3 separate regions of the Homo sapiens genome follow, and all the other regions are linked to region 2. The links come from fine-mapping of genetic effects on plasma protein levels. Region 2 holds a variant in brackets. A gene starts in each other region. All regions are shown on their forward strands. Region 1 holds the start of GALNT3 (polypeptide N-acetylgalactosaminyltransferase 3). Region 2 overlaps C1GALT1 (core 1 synthase, glycoprotein-N-acetylgalactosamine 3-beta-galactosyltransferase 1). Region 3 holds the start of CRELD2 (CRELD disulfide isomerase 2).

Evidence for each region. PIP is the posterior inclusion probability: the model's chance that the variant is causal. The UK Biobank Pharma Proteomics Project read protein levels with antibody pairs (Olink). The fine-mapping took linkage between variants from a reference panel, not from the people measured, so its PIPs are less certain.
Region 1: GALNT3 starts here. The variant in region 2 is fine-mapped to the plasma level of the GALNT3 protein (UK Biobank, PIP above 0.99).
Region 3: it holds the start of CRELD2, and the variant in region 2 is fine-mapped to the plasma level of the CRELD2 protein (UK Biobank, PIP above 0.99).

What each region holds. Positions count from the first base shown.
Region 1 is chr2:165,789,281-165,797,566 of GRCh38, forward strand. GALNT3 (polypeptide N-acetylgalactosaminyltransferase 3) reads right to left here and starts at 4,967. Exons shown (of 11, transcript NM_004482.4): 1 at 4,735-4,967. LOC124906086 reads left to right here and starts at 4,306. Exons shown (of 6, transcript XM_047446887.1): 1 at 4,306-4,512; 2 at 4,639-5,057; 3 at 5,520-5,799. The coding sequence starts at 4,306. RefSeq lists enhancers at 3,717-4,623, 4,624-5,529 and silencers at 4,600-4,689, 4,760-4,909.
Region 2 is chr7:7,237,502-7,243,499 of GRCh38, forward strand. It overlaps C1GALT1 (core 1 synthase, glycoprotein-N-acetylgalactosamine 3-beta-galactosyltransferase 1), which reads left to right. Exons shown (of 4, transcript NM_020156.5): 3 at 754-1,421. Among named protein-coding and RNA genes, the nearest start is that of LINC03016, 15 kb to the right of the region's middle. The variant T/A (reference allele first, on the strand shown) is at 1,315.
Region 3 is chr22:49,913,172-49,921,452 of GRCh38, forward strand. It overlaps CRELD2 (CRELD disulfide isomerase 2), which reads left to right and starts at 5,463. Exons shown (of 10, transcript NM_024324.5): 1 at 5,463-5,727; 2 at 6,059-6,141; 3 at 6,559-6,669; 4 at 6,985-7,076. The coding sequence starts at 5,599. ALG12 (ALG12 alpha-1,6-mannosyltransferase) reads right to left here and starts at 5,267. Exons shown (of 10, transcript NM_024105.4): 1 at 5,092-5,267; 2 at 433-672; 3 at 214-346. The coding sequence starts at 594. RefSeq lists silencers at 4,857-5,056, 5,167-5,666.

The sequences.
Region 1 (8,286 bases), not on the chromosome of region 2:
ATGGAGGAAGGGCAAAAGGCTAACAAGCTTTCTCAGTCCTCTTTTATAAGGACATTATCTTTTACAAAAACACACGAGGCCAAGGCCCTCGTGACCTGATGACCTCCCAAAGACCCTACTCCTAATACCAATACATTGGATTTGATTTCAACATATGAATTTTGGAAAAACACAAACATTCAGACCATAGCAGTTGTAGAGGCTAAGAAAAAGAGTTTAAAATTACCTCTGGATTTCTGGTATGGCACCTGGATGGTAGTACACATTTATGATTCACTCTCCCAAATCTCTGCAGCAAAATATATTTCAAAATTCAGGATTTGACAGCCTGTAGTCTCAGCTACTTGGAAGGCTGACATGGAAGGATCACTTGAGTCCAGGAGTTCAAGATCAGCCTGGGCAACATAGTGAGACCTTGTCTCATAAAAAAAAAAAAAAATCTGATTTTTTTGGATGTTAGAAAGGTGATATGGTTTACATAATCAATGTAAAAGTGTACCCCAGCAGGGCCTGGGCAGTATTATGTAATCAAACAGCACTATTTCTGCAGCTGGACATAATCCACTAAGTTGAATACACAATCACAATAGCCTCCTGACAGTTCACTCAGGCTTTGCTCCAACTGAGTTCAAGTTTTGCTAACAAATGAGTTAAATTTTGTTTTGCTTTGTTTTCAGAGGATGATTTTTGAATTATAGATAAGAAATGGTACAATGTACTACTATCTATAAATAGAATACAGAGAGTGAGCAGGTTGTTTGTTCATTTGTTTTTTGATGAGATGAAGGTTCTGGTTTGAACATATATAATCTCCAGTGATGAACAAATGTTAAAGATGTCCAATAGGCAATCATATAGAAAAGAAAATTAGTTTGGACAGTTTGAAACTGAAACAATTATAGGGAAAAGGTGTACTTGGGGGAATATTCTCTCTTTAGTGCCAAAAATAAGAGCCCAACTCTGAGAATGACCCAAGGAAGTGTCATATAATTGTCAGTAGTCTCTAATGACCTAGAATTCAGAGTCCTACTTGTCTTTGCTTTGCAATAAGTGAATGTACTTTTGTCTCTTGCCACTGCTGGAATTGATTTGAATTCAGTTTTCCCCCTTAGTGTACATGAGTTGTGTTAAATTTCACCCAAATTACATAGTATGAATTATTTTGATACTAACTAAATGCATAATTGAACAGCTAACTGAAAACACCTTCCTTTTCAATAGGATTTTATATCTATAAAGTATCTATCATTCCAAATGTATTTTTGCACTTGATGGACTAAAGAACTGAATACATGTGAAGATGATTCAGGCACTGATCATTTCTAAAATCCTAAATATGATAATATTTTCCTTAGGAGAAATATTTCACCCACCAAGAATGTAAAGGCAGGTTAAAATTGAAAGTGTCTACGGAAGGCTTAATTATCCAATCAGAGCTTCCAAGACTACATTCCTACAAATCATTGAGGGATCTATTTTAATCTCTCAATGTAGTCTTTTTGTGGAGAGGGGGAGTGTAATTCCTACAATTTGTCTCATACTTGTTTCATAGTAAAAAAGAAAAGCATTAAATATTAACAGAATATAAACCAAATAATAAACTGGCTATGTTTTCTCTAATAAATTTTCAGACTCCACCCAGAACTCTAACTCAGTCATAAAACTTTAAGAGTTCAGAATAGAGCTGGACAGAAGGTTTCTCCCTCAAAATTTCACTGAATTCTTATCATCAAAATCCCCTCAGAAAAAAATATTTCTAGTTTTTCCTGTTCCCAAATACACTACAGCATGATGAGAACCCATTTAACACAAAATATGTATAATGAACAAGGTTTCATGTAGTTCTTAATATTTGAAAGATTTAATCTAGCACCAAGGTCCTGGAGCCTCAAGCCCTACAATACATGTTTAATTAGGATTACAGTAAAGTTTTTAAGAAATAATTTATTTTCTTTCATGTGAGTGGGTGTGTGCCTGTGTGTGTGTGTGTGTGTGTGTGTATACGCATGTATGAGACAGAGAAAAAGAAAGCTGGTAGAAAAATCAGCCTTTAAAAGAACAAAAATTCAACAGAATAGTGCTATTTTCACATTGAGGGCTCCAGCACTTTCGTGGTCATAAAGCAGTCTAATTGTTTAGACCAACGTTTTTAAAAATAAAATAATAAAGAACATACATGTTGTAAGGTTAAGCACTGTTTTATATTAATAAAACTTGTTTCATTTATATACACTCACATTGGAGTTTACAGAGTTGAGGCAGAGAATAAATTAGTTATTGAGGATTGCAGTAAAAGGAAAAAAAAGTTTAAAGAAACTTAGTGTTAAGGAAGTGTGCTTGAAATAAAAAATCTGGAGTGTTGCAAATGGATGAAAGGCACTGGGTAGCTGCCTCATAAAATATATTTTAAGCCAATATAATAAAAAGATCAGAAGACTAAATAATGTTATCCACATTGACTTAAAAAATTAACTGTGGCTTGGAAATACCAAGAAGGAACTAAAAGTCTCAACTGACATGGCATCATCAATATGCATGCTATTCCACAATGAGAGGAGCATGATGCCTTCACTGGGTAGTTTCCACGAAGTCAGGCAATATTTGGACAAGTAGAAATGAGGGTAAATCAGAGTGAAGAAAGAGCAATGGACAATTCTGTAATTACAAAGGCCTTACAAATTATATGAAAGAAAAAAGATAAACATCTTATGGTAAGTGAGGATGTGGGTGGTGAAAAGTAAGATACAGGAGTCATGAGTCAAGCCACTGGAATGATCATGCCATCTCTGAGTGAAATGAAGTTAGAATACCTCTCTTGGCTTCAATTTTTCATAAATGGATGGTTTGAGTATTGAATCTCCAAAGTGAGAAAGGGATCTCGAGAATGCTAGGGCTGGAAGATACTCCTGATTGTTTTTAAGGTTTTGTTATCTTAATCTAGGAAAGTATTATTTTTCCTATTTAACAGATAGATTAAGTTACACTGTTACTCTAGCTAATGAAAACATGTTACATTTCTCACTAGAGGTTAAGAGGAAAGACAGTCTGGTAACATCTGCCTAGTAAGTAATGAAGACTAATATTCAAAATTCAGGGAACAACTCCTATATCTCATATTTAAACAGTATTTAGCACATTTGTTTCTCTGTATGGAGACAAGATTAAGAGGTCAGGTGAGATCCTTTTAAGAAATGTAGAAAAGTGGTGATTGAATTAATAATTACATCATGTTATGCTGTGGTTGGCTTTTAGATTTCCATCTAATCTTAAAAAGAAGAAGAAAAATAACCCCACTACATGTTGCATCAGGCATTTTAAGTAAAACGTGCAATTTAAAAAATATTTTTAAAATGTGTGGAGATAGAACAAAACAATGGAATTGTTATTATTATCAGAAACTTCTACGTAAAAATGTTGGTTAAAGCAATATATAAAGATTGATTCTCGGTACAAATTGCTTGGAAAGTTTAACATGTGCACTAGATTTCAGATATTAAAAGTTAAATTAAAAAAAAGAATCTAATGGCAGCGTGTGACTTTAACCTCATGGATTTTAGCCACAAACGCAAAGAAAAATATATACAATAAAAGAAGCAACAGATTTTCCCACAAGCAGAGATTTTCTAATTAAAATGCTGTCACTTTAATATTTTTTAGCTATAGAATTTGACTGTAAATGTCTTCATTATGTAGTGTAACTTCTATAGCAAGTTATGTTAACGTTTTCAAGAATCGGAAATATTGGTAACTCGATGGGGTTCTTAAAACAGAAATAGTTTCTTTGATGAGTTGGAAAGAGAAGGAAATAAAAGTCTAAGGTAAGCGCCAGTTTCACCCTCAATTCTTAGGCTTCAGAAAAGCCTAATTAGGCAGGGAAAGGAATCTGGGCCTGGCACACCCAAGCTTAGACGTGGCAGGATCCTGAAACAATGTTTTTTTGAACCTTTGAGTCATATGCCACAGGCAAACCATAGCCGCGATATGCAGGTCCTTAAGTCAACAGGTCCTCTAACGAGATGGTGAGTGGTTGGTGCGTGGCAGTTGGATTTCTTCCCGCCACGGAAGAAAAGAACTCTTCTCCATTGATCAGGAAAGTGGGCCCAACTCTGGCCTGGAGAGCGCACCCGGAAAAGTGCAGAGTCGAAACAGAGAGAGAGGGGTGTCCGCGTCCCGGCCACAGAGCCCTTTCCAAACCACTCGGAAACCATTTAAATGGCTCGGCGGCCGCGGTTTGCAGCCTAGAACTGTTTGGGGTCCCCGGCTAGGAAAGTTGCCTGGCAAAGCCATGTCTTTCGCTGTCGCGGGATGTCCTCTCGGGCAGAGAGGCTGGAGGAGACAGGCAACCTGCTAGCCGGAGTGGAAGCGCGCCCGCCTCCCGCCGGGCCCTCCCTCTCAGGGTCCCCACGCTGCGACCCTCCCAAGGGCAAGTCCGGGGCCACCAGGTCTTTGGTCTCCGTCCAGCTCCTCAGGGGCCGCCCCATAGGGACTGGCGGGGGCACCGTGGGCGAGAGGGTGTGACCGGGCTCCCCCCCGAGGCGCCACCTGCCCCTTGGCCCAGGGCGCCCCTTTCGGGATCTCTCCAGGGGCAACCGACACACTGCTCTCGAGACCGTCTCCAACCGGCCACCTGGACCGTAGCCCTGTCCCCAACACGTGAACCCCTGCGGCCGTCCTCCCGCCTGCTCTAACGCAGCCCAGGGGTACCGCGTCTCCCTCCGCCTGCCGCCGGCTTACCTGGCGGGTGGGCAGGGCAGGGTGGCGGGAAGCGGCGGCCGGGCAGGCGCTGGACGTGGGCTAGGCGCCAGGTGCAGGTGGCGGCGGCTGCGACTCCGGTTGCTGTCGCCACAGTTGCGGCTCAGTAGAGCTCCTCCTCCGCCGCCGCCTCCTGCCTTCCCGCTGGGCCTCCCGCGTTGCCTGGAGAGGCAGAACCGAGGCTCGGCTTCCACTTGGAGTCTCCCAGGTGAGCTCCAGCCTGCGACGTCGGCAGGGGCGAGGCCCCACTTCCGCGCCTGCGCGCCAGCCTCCCGCCCCGCCCCAGCCCTACCTGAGCGCTCCAGGTGAGAACCTTGGATCGCGCGCGCAGGGTGGGGGCGCCGTCCGGGCCAAGCCTGGCTGTCGCGCGGCTTCTCTCTGAGTGGTCGGCGAGGCTGCTGCTCCGCGCAAGTTGTGGCTCCCGGCCCATCTACATTGGAGGAATCCTGCACTGACCTGGTGGCAGTGATCACCTTGTAGCCAGAACACAGTCTGCTGGGTCCTTGGGGAACCAGAAGTTCTAGATTTCCCCCACACGGTTCCTCCCTTCCTCCTCGGTTCGCCAAAATGAAGGGGTGCGCTGCCTCCGAGGACCACTTCGGGAGGGCAGCAACTGCTGGCTCATGTGGTTTCTTCGGGCAGGGTTCAGCAGCTTCTGTCACCAGTTAGGTTTCGTGAGCTTCCTTCCCGTGTAGTCTTGATTTCATCACTTGACTCACTTCAGCGCAGCTAGTGGTTTCCGTTTCTGTACGCGGGCGCTCTGGTAGGGGCGCCTCACGTCCAAAGGAGGAGTCTTCTTCCAAAGAAGAGCCTTTGGTATTTGGCAGAGCCTCGCCAATTTGGGGCGCACCTCCCCTTCCTGGGATGCTCTCAGAAGGCAAACCAATTCCCAGAAGAGAGGGAAAAACAGCCACAACAGAGAGAACCTTTGCTGTCCCTGTTTGGAAAGAGATTGGGATTTCCTGGAGAGGGCTTGCTTCTACTGCAGGTTTGTTTAAAAGCTCAACATCTATTCTGGAAGAGAACAACGCAGACTCCAGGAAGATGGTGGGTTTTGCTGTTTTTAAGACAAAAAAAAATTGTTAAACAGTATTTGTTCCATTTATGACACAACTTTCTGTTTCAGCCTTCCTTCTGCTGCTGCAACAAACATTGACACACCCAAAACCAGGACTTAAAATGGCCTTTATACCTTTCTATGAACTCATTTCTTTGGCCCTATCCCAAAGATATCTAGGGATATAAATAGAAAACTAGCTAAAAACTTTTTGGTGTCGTGTTTAATCACATGGTGGTAGGTTTTACTATGAAGTTTAGTTGTGGCCTTCCTCCTACATTTTGACATGCTCTTATGGTGCTTATTCACTGTTTTATTAGTGCTATGCGTGACCTAAAAATAAGGTTTAAAATACAGTTTAGTATAGTATCAACAAGTGTATCTTTAGTATTTGACTACTCTAAGACATTGGTTTTAGCATCCATAGTGCTATTTTATACTAGGACATCTATGAGTTAGGGTTTAAGACTTTAGTAAACTAGGTAGTTCTTTGCTTGTTTTACATGTCATGGTTATTTTGCGAGCACCAAGGAACCTCCATGTATTTGCAACATTTTAATATCAGTACCTACAAGCAATTGCCAAGCTCCCTTTCCCTCCAAAAACAAACAAACAAAAAAATAGTTCAGGAGATACTTGTGTGTATTGATATACTAACTTGGCAGTGTTTTTCCTTAGGTCCAGGTCCAGAACTGAAAATACTAACTACTGAAATTCTCTTCTCCTTCTCCTTCTTCTTCGTTGTGCCACTTTGTCGTTTACCCCTAACCAGAGGTTAATGTTAGTCTTTGGAAAATTTGTAAGGTATCCTAAATGTATAACCAAGAAACCTGTACCCTTTTGCACGCACCACCCATCTCTGAATGAAGAGCCAAAGATTGTCAGAGTTTTGATGTCCCACCAGGCGAAGAGCAACACTTTTCACTGACAATCAGGACAGAGCAGATGGATATAGAATAACAATCTGGAATCCAAGGACTGAGATGCATTGACAGCAAGACTAGTAACGTCAAATAACAACTGAAAAGAGAAGCTAGGGTAGACCTATTAAAAGAGAGAGCCAGCAAACAGGACCAAAATGCTGGATGAGGAGTCTAAAAAGAACAGAAGAAACAAAAAAGATCAGGAGTTACTAAAATTTGACTGTCAGTTTTACAATGGAGACAGACAATTTAAAGAAGGAAGCAGTTTTTCTGAGTGTGGCATTACTTGTGCACGTTGAGTGTCATATATATAGAGAGAGAGAAAGAGAGAGAGTGAGAGAGAGTGAGAGAGAGAGAGAGAGAGATATCTTGGGGATGAGACCTGTCTAAACACAAAATTCATTTATGTTTCATATACACCTTATACACATAGCCTTAAGGTAATTTTATAAAACATTGTAAATAATTTTATGCATGAAACAAAGTTTGTGTAAAGTACTTATGTGTGGAATTTTCAACTTGTGGTGTCATGTTGGTGCTCAAAAAGTTTTGAATTTTGGAACATTTCAGATTTTGGATCTGTGGATTAGGGATGCTCCACCTGTACTATTTTACACAACGTTGCTTGTACTATTTCAAAGCATTCTGAAAGCAAAGTCTTAATATTAATAAAAAATTTTCTATGTGACAATAAAATTAAAATGCTGCAGGCCCAAGAAAAAAATATTATCATATTGAAATATTTAATGCCCCAAATCTAATCAGATGCAGGTTTTTGAAAGTACCATCCTATTCAAAATTATGAAATAAAGAATTTGTTTCATAAAGAGAAATTAGCATTTCATCATAAATAAAATCCAGGAACCTTAGTGTAGACATGCTTCAGAAATAAGCTAATTTTAATAGTATATGTTTGACATATAATGACAGTTAAGATAGAAAACTGGGCAGATTTTACACAGGAAGGAAACAAACATTCTCTCTCTCTCTCTCTCACACACACACACGTACTTATTACACACACACACACACACACACACACACACACACGACTAGCCACAAAATGCTCATTTGCATGGATTTGAAACAATACTCACTCCTTAATACTTTCTGTTAACATTTAAATTAATGCCAAGACCAGCACCTGGCACTTAGTAGGTACTTAATAAATATGTGTTAAATGAATAAATTGACCCATCAAGTACCATAAAAAAAATGCCTAGTGTCTTGAGCAATTTACAGGTCTAAAGAATGGTTTTACCCAACAGTAATGACAAATAATCCAAGGCAGATAAGAACACTAGACTGGTAATCTGAATTGCAAAGTTCTAAGAACAATAGCTACCAGCTTTCACATACCTACATTTCAAAAGACACTACGCAAAACAACTTACACTCCTACAAATTACTTTACATCTGGCTTAAATATTCTCTTCCACAAAACAAAATAGTGGTACAAGATGATCTACAGGCTTCTTTACATTCTGATTCATATAAACTCTATGCCAAGAGAATTGGGCAAATAAATAAATAAATAAATGAAACCTTCTGGAT
Region 2 (5,998 bases):
TCTGGTATAAGCTCCTTATTTCTTTGCAAACCTGTAGTTTAAAGAGCACTGCTCTAGACCATCTTGGAATTCCCATGTCTACCATTGTTCTCTTCTGTTTTTGATTGGTGGATTTACATTTTGGAATGAGGTATGTGACTATCAGAAAGTAATCTCAACTCCTGTGCTTTGACCTTTTACCACCTCAGGGTACTTGTAGAAATTCTTAATAGTGGATTATTGTGAACTTCAAAAATGAACTGCCACTTCAGCAGCATGTCTTTCCTGCTCTTCAGAAACTCGTTCAGAGCAGTGAGAAATTTCTGTCAGTAATCTATTAAAAACTGGCTGCTTTCTTTTATGAAGTGCCAAGCAGAGACTATTTAAGGCAGCATTTAGCATGCCTATGAAGCACCAGGAGAACTTATTAAAATGCTGATTCTGAGTCAGTAGGTCTGGGCCTAAGATTATGCATTTCTAACAGGCTCCCAGGTGATGCTGCTGCTTTTAATCAGTAAACTACAGTTTGAGACGAATTTAGATTATAATGTCAACTCTTACTAGCTCCAGTGATGTCCTAGATAACACTGACATGAAACCAATAAATCAGAGTGTCAGTTCACATTAGGATGAGTTTGCTTTCCTTTGGCTAAATCACTAATAGAGGGATAAATAGGGACTTTGAAATTAGGACAGTGCTTTCTTCAGTATAATTTATTAATATTTGGATTTTACATCTATGTAAATAACCTTTTAAAATGTTTTGTTTAATAGATGAGAACACAGACATTGCTGAAAACCTCTATCAGAAAGTTAGAATTCTTTGCTGGGTTATGACCGGCCCTCAAAACCTAGAGAAAAAGGCCAAACACGTCAAAGCTACTTGGGCCCAGCGTTGTAACAAAGTGTTGTTTATGAGTTCAGAAGAAAATAAAGACTTCCCTGCTGTGGGACTGAAAACCAAAGAAGGCAGAGATCAACTATACTGGAAAACAATTAAAGCTTTTCAGTATGTTCATGAACATTATTTAGAAGATGCTGATTGGTTTTTGAAAGCAGATGATGACACGTATGTCATACTAGACAATTTGAGGTGGCTTCTTTCAAAATACGACCCTGAAGAACCCATTTACTTTGGGAGAAGATTTAAGCCTTATGTAAAGCAGGGCTACATGAGTGGAGGAGCAGGATATGTACTAAGCAAAGAAGCCTTGAAAAGATTTGTTGATGCATTTAAAACAGACAAGTGTACACATAGTTCCTCCATTGAAGACTTAGCACTGGGGAGATGCATGGAAATTATGAATGTAGAAGCAGGAGATTCCAGAGATACCA[T/A]TGGAAAAGAAACTTTTCATCCCTTTGTGCCAGAACACCATTTAATTAAAGGTTATCTACCTAGAACGTTTTGGTACTGGAATTACAACTATTATCCTCCTGTAGAGGTAAGTTTAGAAATTTTATTACTATGTCAATACTTGGACTGACTGAATTTTGTTGATAAAAACATGTTAATATGTGTATGTTTCTTTAGTACCAACAACAAGGACTCTTCCTTAGTCTTTTTAAATAGAGTGGCAGTATAACAAAATAGATGAGAACAGGGACATCAGCAATCAGCAGTAGTCACTTAGCAAATAGCTATTGATGCTGTTATATGCCAGGCACTGAGAATGTAGAAGTAAATCACAGCCAATTTCCAGTTCTCGTGAACCTTACATTCTGGATGAGGAGATATACAGTAAACAGGCAGACTTGTAAATATAAAATAGGATTTTAGTAGTAAGTGCCCTGAAGAAAAATAAGCCAAGTAAGGGGATGGAGAGTGACCCAGAGTGGGATGGAGTCCTCTGGTTTGGGTGATTAAGAAGGCCTCTCAAAGAGGTGACTTTTGAGCAGAACCCTGAGTGTTATTAGAGAGCAAGTTGGGTGAAGATCTGGGTAAAGAGCCTTCTAGTCATCAGGAGGATTTAATGGAGGTTCAGAAAGACCTAGAGTCAAATCCTGCTCTCTCACTTAATAGCCGAACAACCTTGGATGGACAGGAGCCTTGGATGACATCTGAGCTTCAGTTTCCTCATTTGTAAGATGGACATAATGTACCTGTCTTATTTAGTTGTTGTAATTACAACATAGTACAGCCCTTCACACAGTAAGCATTTAATAAGCCTTGGCTCACATTCCTGAGAATTTTATCTAAAGTGCATTATTTTAGGAAGTATTCCAGTAGTACAAATATTTCAGAATATACATTGTACTTATCCCCTGTCTTTACCAAATATTAATCTTTTTGCCACATTTGTTTCAGTTATTTAAAGAAGAAAATGCTATAGTATTGTTTTTCAGATTTTTAAATAAATATCTTTCTACAACTTGCCCTTTTCACACAACATTGAGATTTATCAATGTTAATTACATGTCTGCTGTGTTCACTATTATAAGCATTGCTTCAGTGAATAACTGAATGAGACCAGGAATCATGGAACCTAGCTTTTAGGCTCAGTTCTGTTACTAATAATGCCTTTAGGCAAGTCACTAGTTCTCTATGCCTTCTTTTCTGTGGACCTAACGTATAAATAATACACTTCATGCTACTACTGTCATCTTCATAAGGCAATGCTTTCAAATCATCATCTGGAACAGTGATTCTCAACCCAGGGCAATTTTGCCCCCAGAGGACATTTGGCAAGGTCTGGAGACATTTTTGGTTGTTACAGCTAGGAGGCTGCTACTGGCATCTAATGGGTAGAAACCCACTACATTATAAACCTACTAAATGCTAAACATCCTAAAATGCACAGGACAGCCTCCTACAACAAAGAATTACTCTAGCCCAAAATGTCAGTAGTACCATGGTTCAGAGACCCTGGCCTAGAACATCTGACCCAAGCTTTAGGTAATCAGCTTTAAAAGGAAACTTTTGATAGTCTGTTTTTCTATTTTAGTGAGAGTACTACTTTGGATGCTTTTTTGATGTAAACTTTTCTTAATATATTTTGACCATTCCAAGATGACTTGATCTTTTTTCCTTAATTCTGTATCCTTTTCCCATATAAAAAATTTACCCAAATTCAAGAATATAAACATGTAGCAAATACATCCAAATGCATATAAGATCTTACTAAGAGTATCTGATGTTGGATACACATACAGTAGTAGCAAAGGGACATCATAATTGGCAAATTTGTTCTTTCTCTAGAAATTTATCAAATTATGTTGAAGACCATAAAACAGAATTAGAATTCAGAGTACCAAAATTGACCCATCAATCTGACATTGCCTGTTCTCCCTCAGGAGATTCTTACATAAACCCAACGTGAAACTAAAATTCTATTATTATCCATCTATCATTTAGTAAGTTTTCTTCCCCCTAAATGAGTTTAAATCTTATACATACTTTTTTTTTCTATATACTAATTACTGAAAATACAGAAAATTTTTATCTAGCAAGTCAGGGTAAAAGATATTCTAATTCATGAAAGAGTTACATTCCTAAATTTCTTGTTCAGAACTGACTCTTAAGCAGTTCCCTTCCCACTCCACCTTCTTAGTAATAGACTTTTCACCAGAGAAGTTGCAGTGAGTCTTAATATGGTAGATTTAAAATATATGTGTAATTGTTTACATATATATCTCTCTACATGAAAAATTGACTTTTCTGTAGGTCAGAAATGGTCAAATATGATCTACTTTATTCAGTTTTATTTACATTATTCTATCTGAAACATATTAGTACATAAGTGAGGTAGAGAGCTCCTGATTTTTTTAAATTGTTAACTAATTATTCTACTACCATTTTTTAACTCATTACTGATTTAAAATGTCCCCCTTATCATACACTGTAACCTTACTTATAGTAGGATCTAAATCTGGGATTTCATTTCTATGCCATTGTTCTCATTTGATTTTGGCCCAGCACCATATTGTTTTGAACCTTGTAGCTTTACAGCAGTTTTAAGTTACTATTCTAAGGGCAAATTAACTCTTCTTTTTTTCTAAGTGTTTTGGCAACTCATTTCTTTATCTTTGCATACAAACTCATTAATTTAGGGACAATAACATCTTTGCCCAGGATTTTTTGTAAGTCACCTTTTAGGTCCTTTGGTCAAGTTTTATAAACTATTTCCATAGGTATGCAATATTTTTGTTACTGTTCTACTTGGGCTTTTAAAGACTTAACTTTTTACTGATATATATGAAAACTTATTTGTTTGATTTTCTTTTTAAGCATCTTTAAAATCTGGCTTTGTAACTGAATTCTCTATTTCTGATGATTCTTCACTTGAGATTCTTGAGTTTTTTTGGGTAACCATAATTGTCTGCTAGCTCTTGTTTTCTAATAATTATAGCTTTTTACTTTTATTGTCTTTTATTGCATAAATGCTTAACAGAATCCTGGCCATCCAGTAAAATATAAATAAATAAGAGCAATATAATTAATGCAGTAAATCTTATCAAAAATATTATTTTACAGAATATAAAAATTGCTTCCAGAGGTCAGCAATTTATAACTATTACTGGTCTAGTCCTTAAGTTTAATATGCACTGGACAGTATAGTAGCCACTAAGTATGTGTGGTTATTGAGCACTTGAAATGTGGCTAGTCCAAATTGAGATATGCTGTAAATAAAATACACACCTAATTTCAAGAAAGGTTTCATTAATCATCGCAAAACTATTGCATGTTAAAACAGTATGATGAACTTTTTCAGTTAAATAAAATGAAATTTCACTTTTTTTTTTTTTTTTTTACATTTTTTATGTGGCTACTATATGGCTTACATATCTGTTGGACAGAGCTAGTTTAGATAATCACAAGTTGACTTATCTGGTTATTTTTCCTATTTGCTTTTATTCTGATATTTCCTAAAGGTGCAAGAGTAGGTTGTCTAAGAATCTACATATCCAGTGTGTGTTTCAAAGGAAAGTTTAGAGATAACAGCAGAGAAAACGCAGTGGACAGTTTGATAATTTTTACACACTGTAAGCTACATACTTCCAAACATAAATTATTAGATTTATTAAATATTCAGTCAATATGAATCTTCTCTTGGAACTTGCCAGACTATCTCCCTCATTCTTTACAAAGATGTCAGATGGAGCCTGAAGTTTTGTTGGAGTCACCTGGATGACACCAACATTCTCCAGATACCAATTCTGACTCTAGGTTGACTGCTTAATTCATCTCTTTTTCTGTCTTCTTAATTTTCTTGCTTTCTTGTTCGTTGTATTGTTGTTGTTTTATTTTAAACTTTGTTCTCATACCAACCCTATTAGGAATTTATGAGAATTACATAACTGGACAAAGGTTTAAATCTGACCTACCTTAGGGCCACCTGATATGATTTTTCAGTCAATAATAGCTAACATTTATTGGGCATTTATTTTAAGCAAAGGGTAATTTACACACATTGTCTCCTTTAAATAACCACCTTTTACAAATGTGGAAATTAAAGCTTATAGAGATTAAATAACTTACTCAAGGTCGTATACTAGCCCACAAAATTTGGGTTCAAACCCAAGTCTAGGTTGAGAGCTTTGTCTCAAATACTGTACTGTTTGGGTTGATACATATATAGATGAAGTGTATTGGGTTGTAGACACCTAATGGGCAAGGCTTTGTAGTCATTGAATGCCCTAGAGGTATGTTTCCGAGTATGAGCCACACAAAAAATTACAGTGAGAAAATGAGGAAGAGAAAGCAGATGTTGGAGAAGGAGATTTCTCCTTGTATAGCTGCTCCTTTGATTTGAAGAAATCTCAGTAATTTTATCCGCTAAAGAGTGTGAGAGAATATTGTTTCATTTAAAAATACTTTCCACAGTTTCACTTGGTTTCACCAATTTCAATTGGTTTTAAATCATTAGGATGTCTAAGTAAACTATTGATTTCTTCCACAGGTCTAGTACATTAGGTTCCTCTGCTTTACCTTGCCATCTTTAATGTTTGTATTCTTTTAAAATTAGCTGGTCCTTTATAAGTATGTAAATATTGTAGCTAGCAATGTGCTGTTTATTAACAA
Region 3 (8,281 bases), not on the chromosome of region 2:
TTTCACAGTCAAGAGTGTGGAGGCACAGAGGGGCTGACTCAGACGTCTTAGGCCTGACCTGAGCACCTGCTCTGAGCCGCCATGCCACGGTGATCGAGGGCAGGCAAGACTAACAGACAGCGTTCCTGGGCAGGAGGGACCGCGGCCTCGCTGAGGTCACCCGATGACACCACAGTCCCTCACTCCCTCCTCCTTTGTTGAAGACCCCCTTACCTATTAGCTGAGAGTAAAACTTGGACATTTCTAACAGCGAAAGCACGTAAACCGCGGGGCTGGAGAACACTGCGATCACCACTGGCCCGAGGAACGTCCTGGGGACGACTCCGGGGAACTCAAGATGGTCGTACTGCGAGGAGAAGGGCAGGTCAGTGCACCGGGGCCCTGCCAGCTGGTAACATGAGGTTTTCCCCAAAGACAGCAGGGGCCCCTCACCTGCTCCAGGTCTTGCCAGTGGTAGAGCAGGTCATGTGTGGCCTGCAGGTTGAAGCTCTCCTCCACTTTGGTGTAGGGACAGATGACCAGGTGGACAGTGGCTACGGCCACCAGCAGCCCCAGCAGCAGGGGCCGCCTGCCTGATGACCCCTTTCCAGCCATTCCAGGCTTTCAGCTTCACGTACCTTCACAGGCCAACAGTGCGAGACACCAGCCGTTAGCACTGCCACTCCACGCATGCTGGAAAAGTGGAAACAGATTCCTGAGGTTCGAAAGTCACGCTTGCGCTCACGTTTGGGAGATCCGGGTAAAGGGTTAGCAGAATTCTCTGAACTACTGTCTTAGTCGCACTACTACAAATCTGAAAACGCATCAAGATGGAAAGTTTGGAGAAAAAATCACACTTGAGAATCTTTCATACTGTAACCAGTGATCTGACACTTCCAGCTCTGTGAATGTTTTTCTAGGCAGAAGGATCTCAGTCGCAGAACCCTGAGTCTGACCAGGCCTGGGCCACGAGGGCAATGGAGGGTGGTAAATGGCCCCTGCCCCCCAGTCTAAATCTGGCAGGAGAGTCAGCAAAACCCAGGCTTGGCCCCGAGGGAACCGGCTGAAGAAGACGGAATGGGAGGCTGAGGGGTGCCAGTTAGCTGGGTGGGAGGCACCAAGCTGGAGAGTGGTGGACAGGGGCCCCGGGAGGGCAAGAAACTGAACGTAGTACAGCTGCTGGGACACAGGGCTCGAGTGGCCAGCAAAGCCCCCGCTCCCAGGAATGGTGGGATGGGGCTGTGGACGCCTGCGCCGAACCCCACCCTGGGGGCTGGGAGAAGCCATGGCCGGCTTTCCCAAAGGTGGCACCACACTGGCCATGAGCCTGCATGTGAGCCTGGGAAGACTGGCAATGGGTCCCCCAAACACTAACAGGACAACCTCAGGGGCCCGTGGCACGGAGCTTCCTGAGAGGCCAGCAACATGTCCAGCTGCTACACGTGAGAGACCAAGGGAGGGGAGGGGGCAAACTCTTCACGTTTCTGGCTTCTTTTAAAACAGATTTGATTTTATTCAATCCAAACCAGAAGGGCCAGAAGCAAAGGGAGAGAGAACCCCAGGGCTTACCATTTATTAAAACTACTTTAAAAATTTTTTTTAAGAGACAGCGTCTTACTCTGTCACCCAAGCTGGAGTGCAGTGGAGTGATCATGGCTCACTGCAGCCTCAAACTCCTGGGATCCTTTTGCCTGAGCCTCCTGAGTAGCCGCAGCTACAGGTGTGGGTCACCACACTCAGCTAAGTTTTCTTATTTTTTGTAAAGACAGGGTCTTGCTTTGTAGCCCAGGCTGGTATGGAATTCCTGGCTTCAAGCCATCTTCCTACCTTGGCCTCCTGAAGTATTGGGATTACAGGCGTGGGCCACCATGCCCAGCCAAAACTATCTTTTGATCAAACGGAGAGTTAAGAAGTATACAAAGATGGCAACCAAAGGAAAATCTGTAGATTAGAAGGAAGGAGAACCCTATTTGATATGGTGGGCAGGGGGTGGAGAGAAAGAAAAAAGAAAGCTTTAATAATTTTACGACTGAAATGGTATGCAGTTCTCTCCTTTGCCAAATATAAAAACCTGGGGCCGGGCGCGGTCGCTCATTCCCGTAATCCCAGCTCTTTGGGAGGCTGAGGGCCAGGTGCGGTGGCTCATTCCCATAATCCCAGCTCTTCGGGAGGCTGAGGTGGGTGGATCACGAGGTCAGCAGATCAAGACCATCCTGGCCAACATGGTGAAACCCTGTCTCTACTAAAAATACAAAAATTAGCTGGGCATGGTAGTGCACGCCTATAATCCCAGCTACTCGGGAGGCTAAGGCAGGAGAATCGCTTGAGCCCAGGAGGCAGAGGCCGCAGTGAGCCGAGATCACACCACTGAAATCCAGTCTGGGCCACAGAGCGTGACTCCGTCTCAGAAATAAATAAATAGATAATAAAAAAATTTAAAAAAATAAACTTGGTATCAAACAAAGAGAAAGGTCGAAGGACTAGGTTAGGAATCACTAACTGAGGGAGGGCCCACTCAGCTGTCTCCCACTTGCTAAGACACAAGCTTTTTGACGGTGGGGGGTTTTTGATGCTGGATGATTTTTCCCACCAGCGCAGCCTCAGCACCAAGGACAGAGGCCAGCCGCTGTGGCCTGAAGGCTGCCTCGCTGCCACCTCCCCTGCTGGACTCATCCTGCGGGCAGGGCTTGCTTGGTGGACTCACTGCTGAATCAGCAAAGCCTGCCGCACAGTAGGCACTCAACAAGGCTGCCGAAGAAGAAATCGGTAAAAACTCCTACATGGGGTTCTCATCACACCAGCTCACGTGCTTATTAAAAATTCCAGCAGCCGGGAGCGGTGGCTCATTCCTGTAATCCCAGCACTTTGGGAGGCTGAGGCGGGTGGATCACAAGGTCAAGAGATCGAGACCAGCTTGGCCAACATGGTAAAACCCCGTCTCTACTAAAAATACAAAAAAATTAGCTGGAGTGGTGGCGAGTAGTCCCAGCTACTTGGGAGGCTGAGGCAGGAGAATGGTGTGAACCCAGGAGGTGGAGCTTGCAGTGAGCCGAGATCGCGCCACTGCACTCCTGCCTGGGCGACAGAGCAAGACTCCATCTCAAAAATAAATAAATAAATTAATTAAATTAAATAAAAATATGTTCCAACGGCCGGGCGTGGTGGCTCATGCCTGTAATCCCAGCACTTTGGGAGGCTGAGGTGGGTGGATCACAAGGTCAGGAATTCAAGACCAGCCTAGCCAGCATGGTGAAACCTCATCTCTACTAAAAATACAAAAATTAGCTGGGCATGGTGGTGTGCGCCTGTAATCCCAACTACTTGGAAGGCAGAGGAGGAGAATTGCTTGAACTCGGGAGGCAGAGGTTGCAGCAAGCCAAGATCGCACCACTGTACTCCAGCCTGGACAACAGAGCCAGACTCCGTCTCAAAAAAAAAGAAATAGGAAGCAAGCCGGATGTGTTGGCTCACGCCTGTAATTCCAGCTACTCAGGAGTTCAAGACCAACCTGGGCTACAGAGCCAGACCCCATCTCCACAAAAATAATCCCAGCTACTCAGGAAGCTGACATGGGGGGTACTGCTTGAGGCCCGGAGTTCAAGACCAACTTGGGCTACATCATGAGACCCCATTTCTACAAAAATAAAAAATAAAACGGAACGGGGAGCATCTACGTGCCAAGATGTGGGAGGTGCACACAGCAAGTGCTGCTTGGCAGTCCCCCACAACCCCACTCCACACCTCTCCACCCAGGGGAGTTCCCCAGCAAGGAAGAGTTCAGCTGTGGGGTGAAAACATTACGTGCTGACTCTGACACTCCTGGCGGGCCCCCAGCACCTCCTCGGACCCAACAAGGTGTGCCTTCTGCTGATGACCAGCACAGCTCACTTTCGAGGGCATGAGAAGACCAAGGGTGAGTCTGGATTCTCTGCCAGGAGCACGGGAAGACCAAGTCAACACCAGCAAGCACGAAAACCACGACGAACCCCCCACCAGGCGAGGGTGAACGGACACTGTCCTGCACTAGCCCACTCTGCTGGGCAGCTGGGCAGCAGCTGTGGCTAATCTAAGTGACGGGTGCTTCGAGAGCACCCACAGGTTAAAACGGGCCCAGGCCATGACACTTTAAAATGGTGGTTTACAGAACAATGGCATCTCAGATTAGGGAATGACCTGCAAAGACCCTCTTGTCCCCATCAATCCAGATTTTAAGGCCTCTACCGAAATTGATCAAATCAGGCTAAGCATGGTGGCTCACGCCTGTAACCCTAGCACTTTGGGAGGCTGAGGCAGGCAGATCGCTTGAGGTCAGGACTTCGAGACCAGCCTGGCCAACATGGTGAAACCCCGTCTCTACTAAAAATACAAAAATTAGCCGGACCTGGTGGTGGGTGCCTGTAATCCCAACTTAGGAGGCTGAGGCAGCAGAATCACAGGAACCTGGAAGGCGGAGCTTGCAGTGAGCTGAGATCGCGCCACTGCACTCCAGCCTGGGCGACAAAGTGAGACTCCGTCTCAAAAAAACAGAAAAGAAACTGGTCAAATCAGATGTTACTTTTTTTTTTTTTAAATGTGCAGTGTTATCTGCACTCCTTCCTTCCACAGGCAGGAGTTCTCTGAAATCCAGACGCTGCACGTTTTATTTCCCCTAATTTAAACCAGGGGTTCCTGAACATGAGCGAGTGTTCATCACCTCAAGCGCCTGTAGAAATGCAGATCCCCAGCCCCCAGAGACCCTAAGTGGACCCCAGATCCCCAGCCCCCAGGTGAAAAACCCATCCCCCAGGTGGGAGGTCCGGCCCCAGGTGAGGAGCCCGGCCCCAGGTGAGAGGTCCAGCCCCAGGTGAGAGGTCGGGCCCCCGGATGAGAGGTCCGGCCCCCGGGTGAGAGGTCTGGCCCCCAGGTGACAGGTCCAGCCCCAGGTGAGGAGCCCGGCCCCAAGTGAGGGGTGCAGCCCCAGGTAAGGAGCACGGGGCTGTGACGCGTGGACATGCGCGGTGAGGCCTCAGGAATCCAGCGCCAGCGCCAGCTCGGGTCGCGCCCTCGCCCGCCTCCTCCCTGGTCTCGCCGCGCGCCCGCCTGAAGGCCCCGGTCGCGGCAGCGCGCACTGACCTCCGCAGCTCCCGGCGGCGTCCTTCGAAGCGCGGCTGCCTGGGCCAGCCTCGGCAGGAAGCAGGACGGCGGAAACAGAACAGAGCCCGAATCTAAAGTCCTTGCCCAAATCTAAAGTGGCTACCGCAGCCCCGGCCGCTACGGCCGCAGAGACCCTCTGTGCCCTGAGTAAAGATGGCCGCCGCGGGCTGCGCGCGAGGGGCGGGGAGCGGGAGGCGGGGTCGGACCTGCACGCCCCGCCCCCGGACTCCTGGCGGCCGCTGATCCGGGGCCTTCCCATTGGTCACCTCTCGTGGCGAACTCGGATTGGGCCATATCAGGCCGGGGCGGGTCCCATCAACCAATAGCGGCGCGGGGCTGGCGGGTGGGGCGGGGCCTCGCCGGCGCCGTCAAGTAGCCTGGGGGACAGGCCGGCGCGGCTGGGAGCGGGTGGGCGGCCGGGAGGCCGGAGCAGCACGGCCGCAGGACCTGGAGCTCCGGCTGCGTCTTCCCGCAGCGCTACCCGCCATGCGCCTGCCGCGCCGGGCCGCGCTGGGGCTCCTGCCGCTTCTGCTGCTGCTGCCGCCCGCGCCGGAGGCCGCCAAGAAGCCGACGCCCTGCCACCGGTGCCGGGGGCTGGTGGACAAGTTTAACCAGGTGGGAAGGGGCCGGGCGGGGTCGTCAACCTTGGGCCCGGGGTCCCCCTCACCCTGCATCCGGGGTCGCCCCACCTTGGGCCCAGGGTCGCCCTCACCCTGGATCCGGGGTCCCCCTCACCCTGGATTCGGGATCCCCCTCACCGTCGATCCAGAGTCCCTCCACCGTGGTCCTGGAGTCCCCCTCACCCTTGACCCGGATCCACCCCCACCGTGGAACCAGGGTCGACGCCACCGTGGGCCTGGAGTCCCCTCACCCTCGACCTGGGCTCGCCCCCACCCTGGACCCGGGTCAGGTGGTACCAAGCACTATGGGCACTGTCTCCTCGCAGGGGATGGTGGACACCGCAAAGAAGAACTTTGGCGGCGGGAACACGGCTTGGGAGGAAAAGACGCTGTCCAAGTACGAGTCCAGGTGGGTGCCCTGGAGCACCCCTGTGGGTCTTGGCCTGGCGCTGTCCTGGGAAGTCGTGTCCTGCCTTTGGTGCCTGTGTTAATGACAGGGAGACAGAACAGCCCCCGAGGCACCAGTCACCCGTCCGAGTCACCTCGGCTTCTCCCTGAGGACTAATGGCTGGCCCCTCTCTGGCCTTCCAGCTTCTGCTCTGGTCCCTACCCCCTCAACAGACAGTGGCTTTTCAAAATGTAAACTGGAACACCAGCCCCACTTGTGGGAACCGCTCCTGGCTTCCCCTGACAGTGGGGTCCCCTTATTCTCTGTGCCCGGAGTCCTGGCTCCCCGGCCCCTGCACCCAGGTTGGCGTATTGGTTCGGATTTTTCTTCACTGCCTTGGAGGCGCTGACGGTGGGCCGGTGTGGGCCTGTGTTTCAGCGAGATTCGCCTGCTGGAGATCCTGGAGGGGCTGTGCGAGAGCAGCGACTTCGAATGCAATCAGATGCTAGAGGCGCAGGAGGAGCACCTGGAGGCCTGGTGGCTGCAGCTGTGAGTGCCTTAAAACCTCTTAGAAGATACTTTTTATTTTCCAACTTAGAATTTGAAATAACCTCAGACTTAGAAAGGTACAGGAACAGTAGGGAGCTCCCACCTGCCTCGCACCCACCTTACCCCTGCATTACCGTTTTTTATCACCAGAGTCAGCGATCAAAACCAGGAAATTAAGGAGAAGATTCTGTCCACACCTAGACTCTTGTTTCCTGGACCTTACAATACTCCAGAGCATATGTTACGTTCAGCTGCATGTTTGTTTTAAAGAACCGTGTCTGCTGGGATTCAGTGAATGTTTTCCTCCATCCTCAGGAAGAGCGAATATCCTGACTTATTCGAGTGGTTTTGTGTGAAGACACTGAAAGTGTGCTGCTCTCCAGGAACCTACGGTCCCGACTGTCTCGGTGCGTTTCTCCTCAGGGAAATCCCATCTCCTACGTCACTTCCCCTCTTCTTCTCATGATTCTTGGGAGGTAAAAGCACAGAGGGGACCTGGGGTGCATCAGCTTTCTGTAGGGTCTGGGACCCTGCCGGATGGCTGCCTCCCCCATCCCCAACACAGCTTGGAGCACTTCGCACCGTCTGGCTGCAGCCTCACCACTAACCTCATGCTTTAGCGTAAAACTCTGAGTATGTCTTCCCAGCTGTGCTGTTAATTCAGGGGTTCACAGACTCAGGTTGTTCACAGCTGAGTCCACTCACCTGAGAGTCTGTCCTGACTGACCTGTCCAGGTGCTTCTCCCTGTGTGCACAGAGGTGACCACACCACAACTTCTGTGGCTGCTATTGCAGAGAGCGCAGGGCACTGGGTGTCTATCAGGCTGGGCACATGGCCTTGAGCCCCAATGGGTGCCAAGGGACAGGGCTCTTCTGTGAAGAAGTGTGCATTGAAACTGAAGTCACGGTTTACTGTTTATAAAAGCCAATCTCGTGGTCAAGCGAGATCAGGTAGCAGAAGTTTCAGGTTCAGACCCCCCACCCGCCCACCATCAGCCTTCTGCCAGCCCCTGCTGCTGTCCCTGGCATGCACTGGAGGCCGCAGCTAATGTTCCCACTCTCCCTGCAGTCCCCGCGCCTGACGCGTCAGTGTCCCTATCACCATGTTTCAGCTGAGGCTGCCCAAAGCCACACAAAGTGCAGTCATGTGTAACGACCAGGCGTGTTCTGAGAAATGCGTCATTAGGCGACTTTGTCATGGTGCAAACATCACAGCGTGCACTCCACACGCCACACGCCACACGCCTAGATGGTGCAGCCGCTCTGCACCTAGGCTGCCTGGCAGGCCCTGCTGCTCCCAGGCCGCACACCTGCACGGCTCGTGAGGGTCCTGAGTACTGTGGGCCATTTGGCACGTGGTAAGAATGTGTCACCTGAACACATCTAAACATAGAACAGGTAATGAGGCACATTGTGATGTCACTAGGCAATAAGAGCCGCTCAGCTTTAGTATCATCTTAGGGGACAGCTGTGCTATGCAGGGTCCCTTGTTGACCTAAACGTCATCATGCAGCACGTGGCCATAGTGAAGCCCAGGAGCCTGTGGCTTGCTCCACTCAGGCGATCCACCGCCAGCCCTGCAGACCCAGGAAATCAGTTTCCCCAAACACCC